Homo sapiens: one gene and its partner. The protein of the gene in region 1 interacts with the protein of each later gene in a pairwise test. Each region holds a gene or a part of one and is shown on either strand. Other genes may lie near its edges.

The links.
Region 2: the proteins of GSE1 (region 1) and CADPS interact in a two-hybrid assay, tested with the Homo sapiens proteins (one large-scale study listed by BioGRID).

Annotation. Positions count from the first base shown.
Region 1 is NC_000016.10:85,658,322-85,661,821, reverse strand, and holds part of GSE1 (genetic suppressor element 1), read right to left. Parts: intron 2,445-3,500; exon of another isoform or gene 2,147-2,444; intron 677-2,146; coding exon 57-676; intron 1-56.
Region 2 is NC_000003.12:62,487,417-62,490,916, forward strand, and holds part of CADPS (calcium-dependent secretion activator 1), read right to left. Parts: intron 1-3,500.

The DNA of each region.
Region 1 (3,500 bases):
CCCATCCCCACTGTGCGGCTCTCCCTGAGCAGCTCGGGGCCCGCGGGGAGGCAGACCTTTCTCCTGGGCCTCCCGCCGCCTGCGCTCCTCCAGGTCCAGCTTGCTGACCAGCCTCCGGCGCTGCTGCAGGAACTCATCATAGATGTAGGCAGGGTCGGGGGCCCGTGGCACTGGGGGCCGGTAGGGCGAGCCAGGCTTCAGGGGTCCGCTGAGCTCCCCGAAGGTGGCCGCCTGTGGGAGGGAGGCCCGCTGCTGGCCCAGGATGGTCTGGGTGGACTTCTCGAGCTCAGCCAGGAAGGGCCCGGGCCCGGGCAGGAAGGGCTGGTGCTCCAGGCTCCCTCCCTCTCGTGGTGGCGGCGGAGGTGGCTGGTACTTGTCCAGAGGGGCAGGCTCACGCTTCCGTGGCCCCTCCTCTGCTTTCTCCGGGCAGAAGACCCGCTCCACCTTCACCAGCGGCACGGCTGCCTGGCGGCTGGGCTCAAATGCAGCCGGGTGGCTGTGCAGAGAGTGGCTTTCGGCCCGCCGCGTCTCCAAGGTGTTGTCCATCAGGGACACGGGGTTCCAGAGGGCCGTGGGTGCAGCATGGAGCTGGGGCTTGGGCGAAATCAGAGGTGGTGGCCCCCCAAAGTGCTGCGGAGGGTCACGGCCACCTGGCTCGTGACGGTTTGGTCCTGGCCTAGGGAGTGAAACCAACCCTTCAGTCAGGGAGAAAAGACCCTTCAGTCATCCACAGGCTTCCCTGGCTGCCTGCCGCTCCTAAGATGACACAGATGGCGCAGCCCCTTAGAGAGCCAGTGCCAACAGGGCTGCAGGGAGGGGACACACACTCCACCCCAAGGATCATTGTTTCTGTCTTTCATTTTCTCTTTTCCTTTCTTTTCTTTAAAGACTCGGCCGGGCGCAGTGGCTCATCCCTGTAATCCCAGCACTTTGGGAGGCCGAGGAGGGTGGATCACAAGGTCAGCAGTTTGAGACCAGCCTGGCCAACATGGTGAAACCCCATCTCTACTAAAAAATACAAAAATTAGCCAGGCATGGTGGCGGGTGCCTGTAATCCCAGCTACTCCAGAGGCTGAGGCAGGAGAACTGCTTGAACCCAGGAGGCAGACGTTGCAGTGAGCTGAGACCGTGCCATTGCACTCCAGCCTAGGCGACAGAGCAAGACTCCGTCTCAAAAAAAACAAAAAAAAAGACTCACTCTGTCACCCAGGCAGGAGTGCAGTGGGGCAAGCTCAGCTCACTGCAACCTCCGCCTACCAGGTTCAAGCGCTTCTCCAGCTTCAGCCTCCCGAGTAGCTGGGATTACAGGCGTGTGCCACCATGCCCAGCTACTAATTTTTCCTATTTAGTAGAGATAGGGTTTCACCAAGTTGGCCAGACTGCTCTCGAATTCCTGACCTCAAGTGATCCACCTGCCTTGGCCTCCCGAAGTGCTGGGATTACAGGAGTGAGCCACTGTGCCCGGCCCTCCAACACCTGCGGCAGGTGTGTGCAGGCTGCTCCAAGAGGATAGGGAGGCTCCCAGCCTAAGCTGCTAGGGAAGGCAGAGACCCTCTCAGGCCTGGGACAGATCCAGTTTCGGTCGATTTTCCCACCTGCTTGCGTGAATTCCCCTAAGGGCAAGCGCTCATCCGCACTTTCCATGGGGAAACCCACTCTATATACTGGGCTGTGGCCCTGCCACCAGCACCCTCTCCTCCTGCTGTGCCTTGTAGGGACACATGACACAGGGCAGGCTGGCCACCTTCACAGGGCAGTACTCCTCCCTCCCCACTGTCCCCGCAGGCAGCCACAAGACAACCTTCCAGTGTCTGCCCAGCCAGAGCCAAACCCACTGTGAAATGAAGATCCTCCCAGTCAGGATGGGGCCTGTGCCGAGACTGCCCCCCAGTGGCCCCTGTCACAACTGCAGCGACCCCACTGCCCAAGTGGCCTGTGGCAGAGGCCTCAAAGTGTCTTCAAGGACCCAGGCTAAGGCCTGCTGAGGCAGGGAGGGAAAGAAGGGATTTCTAACATCAGAACCCTTCCATTAAACAAGAAGCTGCCCCTTAGTTACACTAAATGGCTTGTTTCCTCAGTGCAATTAAAACAAGATTTAATCTACTCACAGGGCTATTTTTAGTATTGTTTTTCCAGCTTATTTTTAAGAGATGGGTCTCGCTGTGTTACCCAGGCTGGAGTGCAGTGGCTATTTACAGGAGCAATCCCACTACTGATCAGCGCGGGAGTTTTGACATGCTCCATTTCCGACCTGCCCTGGTTCACCCCTCCTTAGGCAACCTGGTGGTCCCCCGCTCCCAGGAGGTCACCATATTTGTGCTGGACTTAGCTGGGACACCTAGTGGGTATAGTACACTACAGCCGAGAACTCCCGGGCTCAAGCGATCATCCCATCTCAGCCTCCAGAGTAGTTGGGCCTACAGGCATGTGTCACTGTGCCTGGCTATCTTTCTTTTTTTTAAAGGGAGATATACTCACAGGATGTCTGGACCAATACTGTGCAGAGACCCTGGGCAAAGCTTGAGGGGAAGAAAGAGGCAGAGGCCACAGCAGGCACACGGCCGGGCTCAGGGATCTCTAGCCTGCCCCGGGAGCCCTGTTTAAACACAGCCACCAAGGCTCTCCCTAGTTATTCCAGACTCCAGGCCAAGGGACAAATCCGACGCTGCTGTCCCTCTTAGCAGAATACAACAGGGAACCACAGGAAGAAGCTGTGTCCTTAAGTAAACAGCAAGGGAATGAAACCTGCAGGAGAATAAATATTTCATGCGCCACACCAAGCACTGAACAGTTTTCTAGCTTGGAGCATGAGGGCCCTGTCAGGCCCCCAAGTTCACAATGCTGTAAGGCCACGTGTGCAGCCGGCCACAGGGGAACCACCGCAGCCAGGGGAGGCCAGGCCCTGCTTCCCATCATGCCCCAGGTCCGGATGGGGCAGCTACACTGGCTGGAAGCAGTCCATGGGTGGGCAAAGTCACAACACCTGTGCTGGGGCCCTGGGGAGCCCTGAGGAAGAAGATGCCTACAGGAGTCAGGGCACCCTGATGTTATCAGGCCATGCCAGGTAGGAGCTGGCTGCCCTCAGTCCTCTGGGTAGTAGGCAAGGCTGAGCCTGAGAGGCCTCAGGGACGGGGGCTGGGAGAGGCAGAAGGGATCTCACTTCGGCCGTGCCGGGCAGTGTGAGCCACAGGGAGACTTAGCTGTGGCCTGGTGACAGTCACTCCCAGTCATCCCTGATCAGCGGGGGCGCATTCCCTCGCTGCCCTACTGGATAACGGAGGCAGGCAGAAGGGAGGACAGATTTTAAACCACCAACACGCTTCCGTCCCAGAGCCCAAGGGTTTCTTATCCCAGGACAGCATCACAGCCTTGAGAGCTGGAAAGATGCTCAGAAATCATCCTACCCACCCTCCTTTGTGGACAGTTGAGGAAAGTGAGGCTCAGGGAACAGAATCAGTGTCCCTAGGTCCCTGAGCTGGGCCTGGAGCAGAGCTATGGAA
Region 2 (3,500 bases), on another chromosome or scaffold:
CCAACTGTGAGTGGTGACCCTACTACATGTCCTGATGGAAACCCATGAGAGGGCCATGGGCTCCAGATTTTATTGACAACTTGGGACTGTCTTTGAGAAGCTGACTATCTTTAGCTATGGTTAGAAGCAAAGAGATGACATTGTCCACCAATTCATAGAGATTCTAACCATGACTGTGTCTGGCTTAACGGAAACAGAGATGTAGCTTCCCTTTTCTCTTTTCGAAGAGATGGAAGACTGTCTTTCTAGGGAAAGGCTGCCATAGGACTCAGCCATTTTACCCTTTCCGTCAAATAACTTCAATTATTTTTGTTGTTGTTGTTTTTGTTGTTCATCTTAAATAACCTTAATTGTATCAAGCCTAAATGATGATATCTATTTTCTTTTACAGGGCCATATTTTGAAATAAGAAAATCTGAAGAATAAAGGATATTTTTCATTCTCTTTTTAGCAAACTCAATACATTGGTAGCATTTTCTTGTCAGATTGCTATTTTTCTTCAGCATTTTGCATGCTAATTATTTTGAACATTACATTGCATTTCATTACAATGCATTTCTCATTTTACTTATAACGAGGTGCTTATAAATTTTGAAAAGAAGAAGAACAGAACTACTTGAGGATAACAATTGTTTGAAAGAAAGGCTGTGTGTGTGTATGTATGTATTGGAAGATTCTGTGGCAAAAATGGAAAAGACTGAGCAAACTAAATCTATTTACCTAAGTTAGTTTCTTGTTTTGGGGTGAGCTTGATGAGAAGTATGCCAAAAAGATCATTCTTCACTTGGAAAAAAAATCTAAGAAGAGAAATGAATCTGCTTCTTCATCAACCCACCAATAAGTAGTCAGATGGAAGTTCACACTTTATTTCTATTCACGTTGTAGGAAACATGGAGAGAGTCACTCCTCTTAGCACATAACATGTCTCCAAGCTCTTTTTTACACTCCATTTTATTCCATTCTGCAAAGCTGCCCCGTGGCATCCACACTCTGTTTAAAAATCGGCTGATACAGTGTGTGTGGTAGCTTGTATTTTAGTTAGCACTGTTTTTATTATTTATTTATTTATTTATTTATTTATTATTATTATTTTTTAATAGGGACTCACTCTGTCACCCCAGGCTGGAGTACAGTGGCAGGATCATGGCTCACTGTAACCTTGAACTCCTGGGCTCAAGCAATCCTCCCACCTCAGCCTCCTGAGTAGTTTGGACTACATGCTGTGCCACCATGCCTGGCTACTTTTTTTATTTTGTAGAGATGGAGTCTGGTTATGTTGCCCAGACTGGTCTTGAACTCCTGGCCTCAGGTGATCCTCTCGCCTTGGCCCCCCAAAGTGTTGGGATTACAAGTGTGAACAACCACACCCAGCCCTTAGTTGGCACTTTTAAAGATCTCCACAGACTCTGAAAGGCATATACTATTTAGTATGAATTGAACAAACCACAATCATATTCACTAACAGCATAATTTTAGATAGCAAAAAGCTACTAAAAAACACACACGTATCTGCATAATTCTCAGGTTATTATTCGCAACTATTATTCCTTTATTCACAATTTGCAGACCTTTAAATTGCCCATGCAAGAGTTCAAATTTTTTTTTAATTGGTAAAAATATTCCCAAGAAAACATCCCTAGACTAAGATTTCCAGGTATGAAGATGATTTTTGAGTCTATCTTTATTTCTGATGGTATTAAGAATATTTAATGCCCCCAAAGAAGTAGCAGTCATGTGTTAAACTTTTATTATTTTTTTTTTTGAGACGGCATCTCGGTCTGTCACCCAGGCTGGAGTGCAGTGGAGCGATCTCGGCTCACTGCAAGCTCCACCTCCTGGGTTCACACCATTCTCCTGCCTCAGCCTCCCGAGTAGCTGGGACTACAGGTGCCCACCACCACGCCCAGCTAATTTTTTGTATTTTTAGTAGAGACGGGGTTTCACCGTGTTAGCCAGGATGTTCTCGATCCCCTGACCTTGTGATCCACCCGCCTCGGCCTCCCAAAGTGCTGGGATTACTGGCGTGAGCCGCCGCACCCGGCCGTGTTTGACTTTTAAGAAATTTAACAGATTATAAAATGACTTAGTGACATTATCACGAAGTTCCATGACAATTCTCAGACACTGGACAGGCACATTTTTAAAACTTCAGTTTTGCAGGGGAGCAAACAAGTTCATAGAGGTTTGAACCCTTGACTTCTGGCTAGTAAATGGGCACTAAATCTAGGGCTCTTCAAGGAATAGTGAAGGATACCAATTATTCTCTTCCATGTGTGTTGGTAGTAGTAGTCTCCGTATTTAAGTGCAAGTAAGTAAATGTTATTTCAAGACCATTGTTATTTTAAAACGTAAATATTACTCATTTTAACCTTTTCCTCTTAATAGCTATTCTCCAGCACAACTGTCTTCATTGTATTGAACATTGAAAAAAAATAGAGGCTCTCAATAATTTACCATCAAGGGATCCAGTTCTACCCTCATGAGTGAAAAGTCAGTAGGGCCATATTAAGAGACTGTTATAAACTGGAGAATAACAAACTAAAATTTAAATTTCTTGGTATTTGCAAAGGAGGAGCTACTGGTTATTAACCTCCCTGCAATAGGGAAACTCCTCTTGTGGCTCAGATGTGGAAGGGGGGCAGAAAAGCCTATTTTGCATTAATTTATCAGTGAGAGCCTTATACAGTATAACATTAGAGGAGGGTCTCAGTTCAGAAAACTGCTTAAAAATAGGCTGCAAGTCAAGGCTTCCAAACTGAGGAAAGGCCTCATGAATATTTGTTCTGGAGTTCCTAAAATGTGCTTGTAACATCCCTCTACTTTGCTCCATACTGTTTGCTGCATCCCAAAGATGTAAAATACTAGCATGAACGAAATGATTTCCTTAAAAAAAGAAAGAAAGAAAGAAAGAAAGAAACTAACAAGGCAAATCCAGCAGTAGGCTTTACTGGAGCTTTTCAAACCATCAAACCATAACCATCAAACTCTCCATATAGGAGTCTCTATTTTTTCAGAAAGGGGAGTCTGAGACTGACCCTCTGGAGCCTCAAGTCAAGCCCTCTTCCCATTTGGGGAATGGAGATGGCACCAAGCCTGCCAAACATTTTCAAATAAGACCTAAAATTTGCCAAACATTTGTGGAAATTGACAAACTTGCAACCCACAAGATTTCCCATAATTTATCCTGCAGGGTATATGTCCCATTTTAAAAAAAGCACACGGTTGTCAAATACATTTAGGAAAATCCGGGTTAAACAGAGTTACACAAAATTCTAGGTCAGTGGGGTAGGTATTGTTTCCTAAACATACTTGGCCATAAAGGTTTTTTTTAAAAAGGTGCATCTAAAAGGCCTAGACCAGGCAATGGCAAACTATGGACCTGTTTTGTTAACAAAGTTTCATTGGAACACAGCTACACTCGTTCATTTACATACTGTCTATGACTGCTTTCATGCTACAATGACAGAGTTGAGTTGTGACAGAGATTATGTGGCTCCAAA